Homo sapiens: one gene and its partners. The protein of the gene in region 5 purifies or fractionates together with the protein of the main gene of each other region. This does not show direct contact. Each region holds a gene or a part of one and is shown on either strand. Other genes may lie near its edges.

Evidence for each region.
Region 1: the proteins of SLC6A9 (region 5) and SDHA purify together in Homo sapiens (affinity purification with mass spectrometry; one large-scale study listed by BioGRID and IntAct). This does not show direct contact.
Region 2: the proteins of SLC6A9 (region 5) and SPCS2 purify together in Homo sapiens (affinity purification with mass spectrometry; one large-scale study listed by BioGRID and IntAct). This does not show direct contact.
Region 3: the proteins of SLC6A9 (region 5) and HERC3 purify together in Homo sapiens (affinity purification with mass spectrometry; one large-scale study listed by BioGRID and IntAct). This does not show direct contact.
Region 4: the proteins of SLC6A9 (region 5) and TMEM33 purify together in Homo sapiens (affinity purification with mass spectrometry; one large-scale study listed by BioGRID and IntAct). This does not show direct contact.

The regions. Positions count from the first base shown.
Region 1 is NC_000005.10:249,277-253,102, reverse strand, and holds part of SDHA (succinate dehydrogenase [ubiquinone] flavoprotein subunit, mitochondrial), read right to left. Parts: intron 2,112-3,826; coding exon 2,000-2,111; intron 1,766-1,999; coding exon 1,635-1,765; intron 1-1,634. UniProt on the Homo sapiens protein: Flavoprotein (FP) subunit of succinate dehydrogenase (SDH) that is involved in complex II of the mitochondrial electron transport chain and is responsible for transferring electrons from succinate to ubiquinone (coenzyme Q).
Region 2 is NC_000011.10:74,969,747-74,973,572, reverse strand, and holds part of SPCS2 (signal peptidase complex subunit 2), read right to left. Parts: intron 1-3,826. UniProt on the Homo sapiens protein: Component of the signal peptidase complex (SPC) which catalyzes the cleavage of N-terminal signal sequences from nascent proteins as they are translocated into the lumen of the endoplasmic reticulum.
Region 3 is NC_000004.12:88,651,169-88,654,994, reverse strand, and holds part of HERC3 (probable E3 ubiquitin-protein ligase HERC3), read right to left. Parts: intron 2,984-3,826; coding exon 2,907-2,983; intron 2,127-2,906; coding exon 1,905-2,126; intron 954-1,904; coding exon 862-953; intron 1-861. UniProt on the Homo sapiens protein: E3 ubiquitin-protein ligase which accepts ubiquitin from an E2 ubiquitin-conjugating enzyme in the form of a thioester and then directly transfers the ubiquitin to targeted substrates.
Region 4 is NC_000004.12:41,955,929-41,959,754, reverse strand, and holds part of TMEM33 (transmembrane protein 33), read right to left. Parts: 3' UTR 1-3,826. UniProt on the Homo sapiens protein: Acts as a regulator of the tubular endoplasmic reticulum (ER) network by modulating intracellular calcium homeostasis. Mechanistically, stimulates PKD2 calcium-dependent activity. Suppresses the RTN3/4-induced formation of the ER tubules.
Region 5 is NC_000001.11:43,997,932-44,000,497, forward strand, and holds part of SLC6A9 (sodium- and chloride-dependent glycine transporter 1), read right to left. Parts: intron 295-2,566; coding exon of another isoform or gene 193-294; exon of another isoform or gene 95-192; coding exon 1-94. UniProt on the Homo sapiens protein: Sodium- and chloride-dependent glycine transporter. Essential for regulating glycine concentrations at inhibitory glycinergic synapses.

The DNA of each region.
Region 1 (3,826 bases), on a different chromosome or scaffold from region 5:
ATCATATGGGAAAAACTCTTACCAGGCAGAATCCAACACGTGCGCTCTGCACAAAAATCAGTTCATCTGAAGAACAAGTGACCACAGGGCAGGCTCTATAATACCTTTTCCAAACCACAGGACAGGTCTGAAATGGTGGCTTACTCCTTATTTAATAAACTGGCATTTCCTCCACAGCGCAGGTCTGAAATGGTGACTTACTCATTAATAAACTGGCATTTCATCCACAGGGCAGGTCTGAAACAGTGACTTACTTGTTAATAAACTGGCATTTTCCTCCACAGGGCAGGTCTGAAACGGTGGCTTACTCGTTAATAAACTGGCATTTCCTCCACAGGGCAGGTATGAAACGGTGACTTACTCGTTATTTAATAAACTGGCATTTCCTCCACAGGGCAGGCTTGAAACGGTGACTTACTCATTATTTAATAAACTGGCACTTCCTCCACAGGGCAGGTTTGAAACGGTGGCTTACTCGTTAATAAACTGGCATTTCCTCCACAGGACAGGCTTAAAACGGTGACTTACTCGTTACTAAACTGGCATTTCCTCCACAGGGCAGGTTTGAAACGGTGACTTACTCGTTAATAAACTGGCATTTCCTCCACAGGGCAGGTTTGAAATGGTGGCTTACTCGTTATTTAATAAACTGGCATTTCCTCCACAGGGCAGGCTTGAAACGGTGGCTTACTCGTTATTTAATAAACTGGCATTTCCTCCACAGGGCAGGCTTGAAATGGTGGCTTACTCCTTATTTAATAAACGGGCATTTCCTCCACAGGGCAGGCTTGAAACGGTGGCTTACTCGTTATTTAATAAACGGGCATTTCCTCCACAGGGCAGGCTTGAAACGGTGGCTTACTCCTTATTTAATAAACTGGCATTTCCTTCACAGGGCAGGTTTGAAACGGTGGCTTATTCGTTAATAAACTGGCATTTCCTCCACAGGACAGGTTTGAAACAGTGACTTACTCGTTAATAAACTGGCATTTCCTCCACAGGGCAGGTTTGAAACAGTGGCTTACTCGTTATTTAATAAACTGGCATTTCCACCACAGGGCAGGTCTGAAACGGTGGCTTACTCGTTATTTAATAAACTGGCATTTCCTCCACAGGGCAGGCTTGAAACGGTGGCTTACTCGTTATTTAATAAACTGGCATTTCCTCCACAGGGCAGGTTTGAAACGGTGGCTTACTCGTTATTTAATAAACTGGCATTTCCTCCACAGGGCAGGTTTGAAACGGTGGCTTACTCGTTATTTAATAAACTGGCATTTCCTCCACAGGGCAGGCTTGAAATGATGGCTTACTCGTTATTTAATAAACTGGCATTTATTTCCTGGTCTTGCCACTCTAGCTGCACTTCTAACCTTGGCCTTCTAACAGCAAAGCACATTGGCTTGGAGATGCCACTGCTGGCATCAGTGGATGCCGACCCAAAGCAAGGAAAAGGTCACAGTGATCCAGAAGATGGCGAGAACCCAGGGATCAAAGTTACCAGGGGGGAAAAAGGCATTTTTTGGATTTACTTTTGGGGCAACGAAAGAAAATGCAGAGAAAATGCAGGGGTGGGGCTGAGTCCCACCAGGTGGCAGGAAAAGGCAGGTGCAGGTGGGCGTGGTGAGAAGGCCCACCTTGTAGTCTTCCCTGGCATGCGCGCCCCGTGACTCCTTCCGTGCCTCTGCTCCGTAGATGGTCTGCAGCGCACACAGCATCAGGTTCTGCAGCTCCAGGGTCTCCACCAGGTCCGTGTTCCAGACCATTCCTGGGGACACAAAAAGTTCCATCAGGGGCAGGCGGGACCCAGTCACATGGGCCCTCCGAGCTGTCAGCCTGGGCCTGCTAGTCCATGGAGTCACTGGTTGTGGCTTTATAGCTGTGGGCCAGGACCCATCCAGACAGCAAGCACGGAACTAAGTCAGCACTGACGGGACAGACACCAGCCCACCCTGCAGAAGGAAGGGCCCAACAGTGTGCACAGAGCCCACTGTCTGCTCACCCCGGTCGAACGTCTTCAGGTGCTTTAGGTCTCCATAGAGCTTGCTGATTTTCCCACAACCTTCTTGCAACACGCTTCCCACACGGAACACGGCAGCATGATTTTGCATTGACTGTGGCACAAAATATTATTTGTAAACTTTTAATCCATAGAAGCAGCCATACCAAGAACTGCTTAACTTTTAGACCTGTTGTTTTGCATTTCACTTAAAAGTTACATAAATTAAACAGAAAAATTAGGAAATTCAGACTATGAGTTTATTACTCCAAACTTAAAAATGAAGTTTTGACTAAAGCTTCTGAATAAATAAATGTTTCTATTACATACACATCTTAGACCCACACACATCCTTTCCAGCAGGATACAGCCAGGGTCCAGGACTCCAAGCAGACTGCCTGTGAGGCACCATGTTCCATACAGCTCCACGGCCAACCAGGCAGCGCTGCCTCTCCACACCCCTGGCGGGACTCCTGACGCGGGGTCTGGTGGTGAACGTGACACAAGCCAGCAGCCCTGTGGTGATACACACTAGGAGGAGCTGAGCAGAGCCCTGGTGATGGTGGTGTTGGAGCTGCACGTCTTCAAGGAGAGGGAGGGGCGTGGGTGGCTGGGGCCCTTGGCCCATCTGGCTACTGTCTTCTGCCTATCTTGTAGAAGCTCCTTGTACACTGAGTTCCTTCATAGTTTTACTGTGATGAGAGACGTGCTATGCAGTGGACCTGAAGTTTACTGTAGGTATGCTGGGAACTAGGCGTCAGCTTTTGCTTCCTGTGGGACAGGCACCACCTCAGTGATCCCTCCTCCTCCTTGCTTCTCCCTCTAACTGTGCTTTGCTCCACTGACCCTAATTTTCTCTTCCTCTACCAATGCACCTTCATGGTTTAATTTGGACATTTCATCTGATTTTCCTTAGACTCATACATAATCGTAACACTGTAATGCACATCAACCTAATGGTTTTTCAGGAAGAACAAATGAAAAACATTGCATCTCAGAATCTAGTATTACATTCTTTCATGTCCATTAGCAGCCACATGTTTTCATATCCTTTTTTTCGTATTTCTGGTTACATTATTTCAGGGCATTTTCAATTTTTTTTGAAATGTGAATGAGATATTTACTGATGTCTGAGCAGACTACTGCTGGCACATTGTAAAGCTACTGATTTTTAGATACAAATCTCTTATCCAGACACCTTACTACATTCTTGTTTTGTTTCTGTTAGTTTTTCAGTTTATTCCCTGGGAATTGTTTGGAAATTCTATCTGTAAATAATGACAATTGTATCTATTCCTTTTCAATATTTACTGCTGAGACCAGCTCGGTTGTGGAGACCCTAACCCAGCGGTGCTGGAGGAATTAAAGACACACACACAGAAATACAGCATGTGAAGTGGGAAATCAGGGGTCTTACAGCCTTCAGAGCTGAGAGCCTTGAACAGAGATTTACCCACATATTTATTGACAGCAAGCCAGTGATAAGATTTACTAAAAGTATTCCTTACGGGAAACAAAAGGATGGGCTCTGGCTAGTTATCTGCAGCAGGAAAATGTCCTTAAGGCACAGATCGCTCATGCTATTGTTTGTGGTTTAAGAATGCCTTAAACGGTTTTCCACCCTGGGTGGGCCAGGTGTCCCTTGCCCTCATTCCAGTAAACCGACAACCTTCCAGCGTGGGCATCATGGCCATCAAGAGCATGTCAGAGTGCTGCAGAGATTTTGTTTATGGCCAGTTTTGGGGACAGTTTATGGCCACATTGGGGGGCCTGTTCCCAACGTGTCCCCTTTATTTGTTTTGCAAAGTGATAAAAGCAAAGGCAGCTTTG
Region 2 (3,826 bases), on a different chromosome or scaffold from region 5:
AAATAAATGAGAGTAACAGGAAGCAATGGTCAGGGTGGGATACTTAAAACTGAAATTATTGCAGGTAATTTGTTCTTATTAATTGCAAGGTCTACTAGGGTATGTCTATGAAAATAAATGTTTAAGGCATGATAGAAAACAGGATAATGGGAAGAAAGGAAGTAAAACTGAGAGGCCAAGTTACTAGAATAACCATCTATGTGAATATGGCAATCACCAAGACTTAAGAAAGGACAAATGTTAGAGAGAGTGCCAATGAGCCAGGAATTATCTTCAAAAGACTAGGTGTGTGTTTAACCGCAAAGAAGAGGCATAGAAGTGGCACAATGTGATGACATGCATTCAAAGGGGGGATTTTAGGGAAGAGGACGCATTGGAAGCTGCAAAGGAGAGACCCATCTCTACCTGTAGTACCGGAGTAATGAAGGCTGTGAGAGAAACATCAGCCACCACTTGCAGTCTGCAGTGGAAATATGTCCTCAGAGGTTATGGTCAGGTTTCACTTAGGGTAAGAAAGAGAAGGGATGTTCCCCTTCCTGTGTCCATGTGATCTCATTGTTCAATTCCCACCTATGAGTGAGAATATGCGATGTTTGGTTTTTTGTTCTTGCGGTAGTTTACTGAGAATGATATATCCCTTGGGGAAAATATTGCCTAAGTATGCAGGAAAAAAAAAAATATATATATATATATAAAACATTAATAAGAGAGATTAGATTGATTTATAGCTATGCTATAAATGAAATGAGATAGATTTTATATTGTCTTATAACCTTATATGGTAAATGTTCATATTACAAAGTTAAATAAAAGTTTCAGTGGATCCAATTTGTTGTTTAAAAAAAAAAAAAAGAGAAGGGAATGTTCATAGAGATGGCTAGGTTATAGGGGACTTTGTGGATGGCTGACAATGACTGGGCTGCAGGCAAAGACTAATTAGGAGGTCAAGGCTGCAGCCCAGCCCAGATGAATGTCAATCATTCACATAACAAAACATGCCACGCCAGGCCCTGGGCTGGGTCTGGTTACCAAGGGGTGAGTGAGAAAGTCCCACCTGGGCTTAGGTTTCTACTGTATAGTGAATGGTAAAGGAGCTCACACTTTGGAGGAGGGGGCGGGCCCAGGAGGAGACACAGATATTAAATAATTATAGCTCCATGTGGTAACTAACAGAGGTAAGCATAAATGCTTTTAAGAATAACTAGGATGGGCTGGGCGTGGTGGCTCACACCTGTAATCCCACCACTTTGGGAGGCCAAGGCTAGGCGATCACTTGAGGTCACGAGTTCAAGTCCAGCCTGGCCAACATGGTGAAACCCCATCTCTACAAAAAATACAAAAATTAGCCGGGTGTGGTCGTGGGTCCGTAATCCCAGCTACTCAGGAGGCTGAGGCAGGAGAATCACTTGAAGCCGGATGAGGAGGTTGCAGTGAGCCAAGATCGCGTCATTGCGCTCCAGCCTGGGTGACAAGAGTGAAACTCCATCTCAAAAAAAAAAAGAATAACTAGGACCACCTAATTTAGACTAAGGCATGTTAAGGAAGACTAAGGTATGTCAGGGAAGGCTTCTTGGAAGTAGGAGTGAGCCAGGTTACAGAAAGATAGCTAAGCCAGAGAGAAGAATATGTTTAAAGGTACGGGGTCACTGGAAACTTGGATAACTTAGCATATTGCAAATTCCATAATATTGCCAGAGTAAGAGAATGTATTTTGAGAGGGGCATAAAAGAAAGCTGGAGATGTCACTAGGGGATGAATGCTGTAATACTTCATATGCTGAAGGAGTTTAGACTGTATAATGAATTTGCTGGGGAGTGACAAAATCACTTTTTGCGAGAGAGTCACATAGCTTGTGTTGTCTGCACGTGGCAACTAGTAGTCTGTGAAACCTTTCATTGCCATTTTCACATCACATGACCTGGCAGTGGGAATAAGACATCAGAATCAGCCACTGTTAAGCTACTAAATCAGTCGGTGAGGTGGGGGAGGGAGAAGACATCAGCAGAAAGCCGGGAAGAGAGCAAGAACATTCACATTCCACTCCACCAACAATACGGCAGTTGGTAAAAATCAGCAGGAAACGTGAAAAAAATCAGAACCCTTGTACACTGCTAGTGAGATTGTAAAATAGGGCAGCCACTTTGGACAACAGTCTGGCAGTTCATCAAACAAAGAGAGTTAGCATACCATACAAGTCTTCTCCCAGGTGTATTACCCAAGAGAAATGAAAACATGTCTACCTAAAAACATGTACACAAATATGTATAGCAACATTATTCATAATAGCCAAAAAGTAGAAACAACCCAAATGTCTGTCAACAAATGGATAAACAAAATGGAATGTTACTTGACCATAGAAAGGAATGAAGTACTGATACATGCTACAACATGAACGAACCTTGTGTGCAGTATACATAGGAAGTAATTGCACTAAGTGAAAGAACCCAGTTATAAAAGACCACATATTGTATGATTCCATTCATATGAAATGTCCATAAAAGAGAACAGAGAAAGTAGACTGGTGGTTGCCCAGGGCTCAGGCAAGTGGGAGGATAGGGAAGTGATTAGCTAGAGTACAGAGGTTTTTTTTTTGAGGTGATGAAAATGCTCTAAAATTGACTGTGATAATGGTTGCAAATATCTGTAAATACTACTAGGTACTTTTGAACTGTACACTTTAAATGGGTGAACTGTATGTATGGTAGGTGAATTATATAAAAGTTCTTAAAAAATACAAAAGTCAGAATAAAAATAATGAAATTATAATGCCGCTAGGTTTTAGAATTCTGCAACTCAGCTTCAGTGGCCTGGTAGAGGATGCAGATTATGATGGCTGAGGCCAAAGGGCAGCTAGAAGCCCTGTCAGGAGATAAGCAAGAACTCAGCTGCAACAACAGAATGAAGGTCTGCTTCCCTTTCTCATAGGCGCTTCTACAAGTTGGCAATGAGACAGTCTGTATGGCACAGATGCTACACTTAACTTCATATATAAATAATTGTACCTATAATTTGTGCGGCTATTATGCACCAGTTAAGTATAATAGGTTTTTAAGATAGTGACTACGAGTATGAATTCTGGTTTCAAACTTGGGCTGGAATTCCTGCTCTACCACTTTTGGGCTATATGATACTGGAAGAGTTGATTTAAACTTTGGGCCTGTATTCTTATCTATAAAATGAGTGTTCTAAAACTTAATGAGATAATGCATTTAGCAGAATACCCAACATACAGTAAATGTTCAATAAACATTTGCTATTATTATAATTGGTATTTCATCTTCCCAGAAACTCTAGGCATCATTTTTGACCCCACTAAACCTCAGATAATTTATATGATTTACCCAAAGTTATACAGCTAGAAAGAAACTGAATTGGAACATGAACCTAGTTCTTGGTACCTACAAAACACATGTGTGTCAGCTGCACAAAGTTATACCTGACACTGGTCAGAAACAGACTCTAGATTGTGCTTTTTTTGAGTTGCCCAGTGCACTGCTCCAGATATTCTTGATTGTATTCGTGGAGAGAAGACAGGATCATAGAAGACACAGAAGCTAATGGAATTCTTCAAAGATAACTGATCTCACATCTTTGGCCTTTATACTTTTGTATGCTTAATCGTCTCTGTTAACTGGCCACAGGAAAAAGTACCTTCTCCCACAGTTTATCCTCAGAGCATTTCTGTGATAACGCAATCTCAGAACTATAGGGCTAGGACAAACCTTCTAGATCATCCATACTCCTTTCTTCATTTTATATGACTAGCCCTATGATCCACATAGAGTAGGCACATAATAAGTCTTCTGTTGATAATGACAACATGCCA
Region 3 (3,826 bases), on a different chromosome or scaffold from region 5:
GACTGCATCTTTATGGAACAAAGATAGCAATGCTCAAAGGAATGTGTGCCTTCTGTAAATTTTTAAAATCGTTTGAAAGTACAATGATGTGTTAGGAAGCAAAATTTTAAAAAAGGAGAAACTAGGAGCTAGGCTAAATGAGATGATTTTACATGATCATTCACATGTAAGAAATTAGGTGCTCTACAAATTCCTTGGTAAGTAAGCTGTTTTTTTAACAGCTGTATTTAAATAAATGTTAAGGCATTTTATCAAAGTGAACGTAGAATAATATTTGTTCAATATAAAAATACATTTTCATTCTCTCTAGAATGTATTTAGAAGCAAAAGAAACATGATTATTTTAAAACATTAATTAAATTGCTGTTTCTTTTTTACATATTTAAATGACTTGTTTTAAAGGAACATAGGACATCATTTTATATATATTATATATACATAAAATAACAAATAAAAATAACAAAGTGCTGTCTTTGTTCCATAAAGAACCAAGGAATTTATATATATATAAATATATACATTATATTTATATATATAATCTACATTTTTATATAATCTACATTATATGTGTGTATATATATATAATCTACATTATGTGTGTGTGTGTATATATATATATATATATATATATATATATATATATATGAAAAATCTACAAGATTACCAAAGAGGATAACAGAGACATACAAAAAAGTAGTCTTTTTCTATTCCTTTGGAAAACAACAAACCCACATAAAAGAGAGCATTCAAGTTCAAGCCACAATACTGTAATCACACACCATCACTACACTAACATAATCAAGCAATTCTAATCACCCATCATATCCCCAGCACCAAAGTAAAATACTCTGAGCTCCTTACCTTTGTGAGAACTGCTGTGTGTTCTTCTCCACAACTAATATAGACAACTTTTTGCGTGCGTAAGAGTTTTACATGGCATGGAGATTCTCGATCTAGAATAAATTAAATATCAGAATATCACTACCATTTGCCTTTGAGATGAAATATACACAACTATCTTGGCATGAATTTTGGATTCCTGGATTCCTGACGCATGTTCAGTTTCCTGCCTGCATCTGTACTTGGATATCCAACAGACTTCTCAGTTTTAATTTACCTAAAACCTACCTCATGGTTTCCCTACACTCTCCAACCCTGCCCACTCTCCAGCTCACTTTACTACACACGGTTTTCCCCATTTCAGAAACAGTCATTTTGCCCTTCCAGCTGTTCCTTTATTTCAAACCACACATCCAACAGTGAACAAAACCAACTGGCCTCATCTTCAAAATATGTTTAAAATCTGACTTTACTCCCACAACCTCCAAGCTGGTCTTCCAGCTTCCCCCTTGACCCACTACAGCCAAAGCCAAAGTGGATCACGCTTCTCCTCCAAACCCTCAGGGTCTTCCCCTCTCACTGAGAAAACCAGTTATATCCTCACCCTGCCCCTCAGGGCCCTGCATAACTGGGTCTACACGACTTCTCTGACCTGCAGCTGTGCTACTCTTCCCCTTCTCTCCAACTACATCTCTTCCCACATGAGCACCTTTGCACACCCAGTTCTCTCTGACAGGAACATTTTTCACCCAGACATTTACATGTCCCATCTCCCACCTGATTTCCTACAGGTTCTGCTCAAACATTTTCTTATCAGAGGGGCCCTTCCCCACCACCTTATGTAAAGCAGGAAGCTGCACTCTCAAATCCTGTGTATTTACTGGTTTTGTTGCACCTCTACTCACTAGAATACAGTCTCCACTAAGACGAGGATGTTCTCTATTGTGTTCACTGCTTCTCCCTTAGTATCTCACATGGGGCTAGCACATAGTAGATCCTCAAGAAGCATGTGTTAAATGAATGTGCTTTTAAACTAAATACATACATATGAAGGGTTTACCTACCTTTTTCATCACTGAGCCCTAGCTGCCCGGCATTATTCATCCCCCAGCCAAAAACAGCTCCTGAGAGAGACAGGGCAAAGCTGTGAGCCCCTCCGGCAGCCACCTGAGCCAGTGGGATCCCCTCCAGGGACCTCACCCTCTGTGGGCTGGCTTGGGAGGGGAACTCCTTCCCTAAGCCAAGCTGCCCATGGCTGTTCTTTCCCCAGGTGAAGAACTGGCCATCTGAAATAACAGGATAACTGGTATTACCATAAAATGATACAAGCTCCACACACAAAAATAATCTAGTTATTAGGGTCATTTGCCAGTTGCCCCCCAACACCAAACCCACCCAAGAGCAAAGGAACAGAGATACTTCATGCTATCAGACTGCCAAAACCAAAACTCCCAAGTGATATAACAGAGAGGTAAGCTGAGTCTTACTGCCCTTCAAAGGCTATTAAAATTTATACACAGAAAATATTAAATGTATAAGTAAATTCAATTTCGGACAGGCCAATTACCAGGCTTAAGCAAGATCACACTAGTTCTGACCACACTAAGACTATGAGACCCAAGACTTCGGGAGGTCCAGCAATGACCACTTGGTCTGCTCTGCAGATAATCAAGCAGGACACAGAAGTGCAGATTTATTTAGGTTTCTCCAACTCCTTCTTTTTCATTCATTTGGGAGCTTGATAGTGGAATGTAGCTTGAGAGTTGGCTGTCGCTAAGAAAAATCAATCTCCTCCATGCTCAGAACACCTAGGTATGGTCCTGCCCCCTGCTTATCTTCCCCTGTGAAAGTTGGAGCAGCAATGATGACCACCTACTTCATCACCCACACCCTGAGAAAAGGATGAGCTATGCAAAGCCCATATGAGAATTGTCACTGTCCAACAGCAATGCATAGACCCTAACCAGTTAATTCAAAGTTTTCAGTTAGATAATATCACACAAAAAGACAAAGAGAAATGTTTTCAAAATTAACATAGCATTAGCATATGTTTAATGTTACTTTACCAGCCGCAAGAGCCAAGCAATGCCAGTTGCCACAGGAAACTTGTAATATTGTTTGCTGGTTCAGCTTTTGTATTAACCTAAAACAGAAAAGGCTTTCTTTTTCAGATAGATATTCACACACAAACACAATTATCAGAAATATTCCCAATTAAATAAAATGTCAGTAATAAATAACACCATCTTGCCTAAAAGTCTTTTTAAGGCCAGGCACAGTGGTTCACGCCTGTAATCTCAGCACTTTGGGAGGCCAAGGTGGGCTTATCACCTGAGGTCAGGAGTTCGAGACCAGCCTGGCCAATATGATGAAACCCCATCTCTACTAAAAATACAAAAAAAATCAGCCGGGCGTTGTGGCACATGCCTGTAATCCCAGCTACTCGGGAGGCTGAGGCAGAGAATTGCTTCAACAATTCCCCATCACCATTACTCTTGTCACAATCAGTTGTAGAAAAGAAGCAGGTCAGAAGAACAAAGACAGATAATAGAGAAATTGTACCCTTGAGGTGGGGAAGAGGGAGTCCATACAGTGCAAGCACATACTGTATTTTACCTACTTGTCTCCTTCTATCCTCCCCATAACCCTGTAAGGTACATAGTAAGTAATTTTTAAGTTAGGAAACTGAGGCTTAGAAAAGTTAACCTGCCCAAGGTCATTCACCTTACAAGTAAAAGAGCCAGTATTGGAATCCAAGGCTTGTTTGACATCAAAGCTATGTTACTTTCCACAATACAAAGGTATAAATTAGTGAATTTATTTCAATTAACTTATAATAGAAAACTATATACAAATCAAAGTCTTGGAAGTCATCCATAATTTGAACATGAATAATGAATATTAAGCTATTACTGTAGAACAGATTACTTCATTTTTAAAAATGAAATGCCGTTAAAAACCTTAATTGTGTTTTGGTCATCAACAA
Region 4 (3,826 bases), on a different chromosome or scaffold from region 5:
GTTACTTGCTCAACACTTCACCGATTTGGTCTCAACTTAAAAATATATATGTAGGCAAAAATTAATGTCAAAAGGAACTGTTCTAACAGTTACAAGAGAAAATAGTAAATATTTGGAATTAAACTGTCATGAACAAAGAAAGAAAAGGTTAGTTTCAAAGTGCTAGGCACATCAAGTGAGTAGCTTCAGAAGGCTAGGTAACATGAAATAATTCTTAGGCCACTCTTTCTCATGGAATATGAGCTAATTGTTAGATTTCAGCAAAGACATCCATCTATAATTTTTTCCTATTGTTTTCTAAGAAAGGAATCTGCTTTAGATTTTAAAATACTGTGCTTTCTTTATCTCTTGTCACATCAACTGACACTGCAGGTCAGATTTCCTACACGCACAAGAGGAGAAAGACTATATAGAGTTAATCCATCACACTTGACTATGTTCCTTCTAAAGAACCCATGTGAACATCACCTTAAAACATAAATATTTCCTAGAATAGTTACTACCAGTAAACCTCCCAAACCTTTAGAAGCTCCTTTGTTCTCCTTAACAGCAGATCCAATCATAACTTTCTACCCTGAATATAAGACTGCTCCTTAAAACAATCTCTGGAAATAACTCCTAGATTTACACGGGTATGCCTTTGGTATACTAAATGTTGAGCTATAATATCATATAGGCTCTGTGGAATTCTCCTAATCCTAGAGAATTCCAATGAGTTAAGGGAAACTAGTTGTCTCAGCCAGGCTTAGTGGCTCACACCTATAATCCCAGCACTCTGGGAGGTCGAGGCGGGCAGATCACTTGAGGCCAGGAGTTCAAGACCAGCCTGACCAACATGGTGAACATGGTGAAATCCTGTCTCTACTAAAAATACAAAAATTAGCTGGGCGTGGTGGTGCACGCCTGTAGTCTCAGCTACTAGGGAGGCTGAGGCATGAGAATCGCTTTAACCCAGGAGGCAGAGGTTGCAGTGAGCCAAGACTGCACCACTGCACTCCAGCCTGGGCAACTGAGTGAGAATCTGTCTCAAAAAAAAAAAAAAAAAAAAAAAAAAGAGCGAGAGAAACTAGTTGTCTCTACAAGCCAAGCATAATTTTCAAATCTAGGTGCCATTCCTCATATAATATCTACAAATTTCAATATGCTTTTATATTACTATCAAAAGTCTAAATTTTAAAAGAGGTTCAACGGGCTATATCTAGTCTACCTACAAAATGATCATGAAAACACTTTAAGTACCATTTTTTACACATCTGAAAATGAAGGAGAAAGGATAATTTTATATTAGTGTGTTTCGGTGATGTAGGCACTTAGCATGAAAAGAAAAAACTGGATAGACCTTGATCTGAATGGTGTCACTCCAAATTGTGGCCTATTTTACTGTTTTCCTAGAAAGCACATATTGACAGGGTACTTCTTTTGAATAATTCAGTATTTTAAAAATGCAAGCCAGGCACAGTGGCTCACGCCTGTAATCCAGCACTTTGGAAGGCCGAGGTGGGGGGATCACGAGGTCAGGAGTTCAAGACCAGCCTGGCCAACATGGTGAAACCTCATCTCTACTAAAAATACAAAAACTAGCTGGGCATGGTGGCGGGCACCTGTAACCCCAGCTACTTGGAGGGCTGAAGGAGAATTGCTTGAATCCGGGAGGCAGAGGTTGCAGTGAGCTGAGATGGCGCCATTGCACTCCAGCCTGGCCAACAAGAGTGAAACTCCGTCTCAAAAACAAACAAGCAAACAAACAAAAAATGCTTAATTTTTTTTTTCAATCTTGAATGATTACATATTTAAAAGGGCCATGGAATTCAGGGACTTAGTTTTATAGCTGACTCAGCACTTTTGGTGGCATTTAACCTTCAAACACATCATGTGAAAATGGGGGGCTACCTGAGGAAAGAGTGCCACCTACTGATTATAAACATAACTGTCCGTGGCTACTTCTTCCTTGAAGTTTTCATTTCAAAGTGTCAAAATTAGTCTAATTTGTGTGACAGCTTTGAGACTGTCAGATTCTAAGGAGATTAAGGAAGGAAGAGGTGGTGGTCAGAATAACCTATGTTAATCAAAATAAACTCCTTAGCATTAGTTAAGGTTCTTTACCTCAATCTCTCAAAATTAATGTTATTCTGAACTAAAACTTAAAAAAAAAAAAAACTAAATCTCTCAGTTCTACTTGTCTTATTACACATATACTCATCTTCTTTTCCAGAAAAAAATAATATTCATGTCCTAAACTTAGAAACCTAACCTGAAGTTTTGATCTGGATTTTTAGGAAGAAGGAAGTATTGATGGTTTCATCATTCTTAGCTCTATAAAAGAACCTATTAATTTTTCATAACTTTTAGCTTAGTATTATAGTTGGCCTTTTCTCTGTAAGGGACATTCTTAAATATTCAAGTCTAATTTTCTTTAAAAAGTTCGCTTGCTTTCTTTCTTCCAGGAGGATCTACCTCTGAACTTCATTCCAAAAAAAAAAAAAAAAACCTAAATACAAATTGCATAATAAATTTCTCTTTAGATTGATATTAGAGTTTAAATTAGTAAGGTACCAACTATACAAAAGGACAGAGAATCCTTGCTAAAATAAAGTAGATTTTGTATAAGGCTTCCATCTATCCAAAAAGGTTTAATATTTAAAAATGCCAGAAGAACAATGGTACTACACCACTTCCAGAAGAATTAGACACACTGGATGTTAAATGAACTTCTTTTAAACCTGTAACTAACAATAAGTTCAATGATGCAGTAAAGAGTTAATTTCTGTTACTACATTCATTCTATATATTGCTATTGTATTTCCTTAATTTTAATTTGATAGGTATACATGTAACACTATAATTTCAAATTCCAAATCAGCCGGTTGTAGATATTCCTATTGCAGAATTTCTAACTATGAGTTCATGCAAACTAAACATCTAGTAATGCTCAAATTGTAAAATTTACTTTTTCGTAAGTTTAAGATTACCTTTTTTTGTATATTAAACCTTCCTTTAAGAAACAAATCTGTTTCAACTTGTCAAACATGAGTATATCAGAAATATTATAATTCTGCTAAAATGACATAAAACCTCAATTTAAAGCACAGAGTGTTATTTTATACTGTAATATTTTTAATGTTAAAATGCTTTTTGTTAAAACCAACATGGATTATTGACCAATTATCTTGACCAACAGTACTTTTCAAAATAAACAGGAAAAACTCAAAACAGAGACACACAGATCTTTAAAAGACAATCATGATTTTAAAAAAATCATGGATCATGGTATAAACAGAGCACACAAAAGGAAAATAAGAAATGAAAAAAAAACTGTTGAAATTCAAATAAGTTTTATACTTCAGTTAGTAGTATTGTTCTGGGCTAATATCTTACTTTAGATAAATGTTCTACAGTTATGTAAAACGTTAACATGAGAGGACCTGAGTAAAGGGTATGCAAAAGAACTCTTCTTGGCAGGGCGCGGTGGCTCACACCTGTAATCCCGGCACTTTGGGAGGCCGAGGCAGGCAGATCACGAGGTCAGGAGATCGAGACCATCCTGGCCAACATGGTGAAACCCTGTCTCTACTAAAAATACTAAAATTTTGTATTTTTACAATACAGCTGGGACTACAGGCGTGGTGGCGTGCACCTGTAGTCCCAGCTACTCGGGAGGCTGAGGCAGGAGAAGCACTTGAACCCAGGAGGCAGAGGCTACAGTGAGCCAGGATTGCGCCACTGCACTCCAGCCTTGGCGACAGAGACAGACTCTGTCTCAAAAAACAAAAACAACAACAAAAAAACTCTCTTGTACATTTCTGACTCTTCTATAAATCTAAAAGAT
Region 5 (2,566 bases):
CCATGAGGAAGCCAATGGCCACGGCCCAGCCTGGGTACTGGTAGTGGTTGTAGGTGATCGGCTGGTACTGGATCACAGTGAAAACTAGAATAAACTGCACGGGGCAGGTGTGGGAGTGGGCGTGAGGCCGACCCAGAGCCCAGACCCCAGGCCATCCCTCTACCAGCACCCTTTCCTCTCTGGTTTCCCAAACTAGAAAAGGGCATTTGGGGCAGAACAGGGACAGCTGTCAACATCTGGGCCGTGGAAGAAGCAGGCAGGGCCGGGGGCCGGAGCGCGGTGAGTGGGAAGGCTCTGCGGAAGGGAGAAGTCTGTCTTTGCCACAGTCCTGAACTGGCCAAGCACAGTAGAGCTGCTGCCGCCTTTGGAATCAGTCAGTTCTGCTCGCTATGGCTCCCCATGGCTAACTGAAGTAAGGCCACATCCTGGGCCTTTAGGCTGTCACCTGGCAGTGTGACCTCAAATTGTCTTGCCGGCCACACTACTCCGCCCTCAGTGTTTCAGTCACACCCAGTGTTTCCCACCCACTCTTCATTTATTCTGGGGAATCATCCTCTGCATCTTCCTCTGTCAAACCCTATGTCAGTGCCCTCTCCTTCAAAAAGCCATCCCAGATTTCCTCCATTTCCTTCTGCAGGGCCTCCCCACGGCGTTTTCCACCTGCTTCCCTTAGAGTGACTTGGTTTAACGTTCCCATAGACCTGAGAGCTCCTGGAATTGCATCAACTCTGGGGGTGCAGTGCCCAGTACAGTGCCTGCCACAGTCTCTTGTGTTGATTTGAACTGATTTGTGCAGAGAGGCAGAGGAGGATGGAAAGAGGGTAGGGCAAAGCCCTGCCTGTCTATGGCCGTGGAGACAGGGACATTCAGCCTGGGGAAGCTCCATGGGCTAGAAATGGTGAGTGTCAGGCTGCGGTGCTCTAGGGAACCTCCTTGGAAAGAGATGAGTGAGATTGGAAATAAAACTTGTGGCTGCAGTAACAAAAGGAGTGAAAGGAGGCAGAAACACAGGCAGTGGCTGGCGGGCCACCCAGAGGGCCTGGCGGGGGAAGGGGGGGGGCAGTCCCAGCACCCTCCTCCTGAGCCTCCAGCCACATCCTGGAGCACAGGGCCATATTCTAGAATGCAAGACCCACATCCAAATTGGGGGACCCTCCGGAGACACTGCACACGATGGGAGCTTATAACAGGTTTCCTGAATGGAACAGATCCTGACCTACGTGTGGACAAATCCCTCATTTGAGCTGACAGAAGGGTGGAGTTTGTCAAAAAGAGCTTTTCAGAAATATGAAAAAGGAAAGCCCCCAGAGAAAACACAACAGCCCAGAAAGCCAGGCTGGAGTTACCCCAAGGAGAGGACTCTAGGCTCCCCTAAAGGTAACTCCAGCCTGGCTTCCTGGGCACAGGAAGAGCCCCGCCCGCTGTGCCTCAATCTTGTGGAGACACCAGATCCCAGCCAAGGTTGCCCCTACAGATCCTTCTTGTGCTTGTCTCCTTCCTCCCCACTGCCCTTGGCAGGTGCCCCCTGGTCTCTCCCCAGGACATCAATCTAGTCTGAATGCTGGGAGACCCTCTGAGCCGCAGAGGCTGAGCTCCCCTTGGGCCATAGCCCCAGAAGGCATGGCACTCTGGGGTGGTGGTGCCTGCCCTCCCCTGCCTCCCACCACTGAGACTTCCGTTCCTCCTGTTTCAAAGCTGGGCCAGTGGCCAGAGCGGGGAGCCTGTGCCAGGCTCGGGAACATCCCACAACCTACCGGGTAGAGGCCTCAGCCCTCCACGGGCCTTTATTCAGAAACATGAGCCACAGGGGAAGTCTGGTGCTGAGCCCCCTGTGCCACCGAGGCATTAAACATGACAAGAGTGTGGCTCTGAACACTGGCCGGGCCACTGGGCCAGCCCTCTGACTATCACTCAGAGGTGGCCTTGCCTGTCCTCTGTGGAGTGACCATTACACTGTCAATACCTGCCTTCCCCGAATCCCACCCCAAACAGGAAGGAGCCAAGTCATACGGTTTTGGCCCCTGGACCATTCCTCCCTCCTGCAGAGGTGTTTCTAGTGTGGCGCTGGCCCAGGCTTGGAATTGGACAACCTGATTTGAATTGTGGCTCTGCCTCTTATTAGCTGTGTGACCATGGGCCAATTACTTAACATCCCCATGCCTCAGTTTCCTCATCTGTAAAGTGGGGACAACAATGACACCTTGGAGAGCTCTATCACGGGTTACATGGGAATGGTGTGTGGAAAGTGCCTGCTTCCTTGCCATGGTGGATTCCTTCCACCAATTCAGCTCCCTGATGGGAATTTCTCAGCTGTTGAATATTCATAAAACCTGGAACTCCCCTTCCCAAGCCACCCACCTCACTGCCTGGAAGGCTTGCAAAGTTGCCCCCATGCAGAGCTGACCTCTGACTCCACAGTCTGGTCTACCAGCCTTGGGCTGCTGCTGGAACACTGGTTCCCACCACATAGCCAAGGCCCTGGAACACCCTCCCTGGAGGGATGGGAGATAAGGCCAGCAGGCAGAGGCTGACACGCTATCGATATTGACTCCTGAGTCCCCGGGGG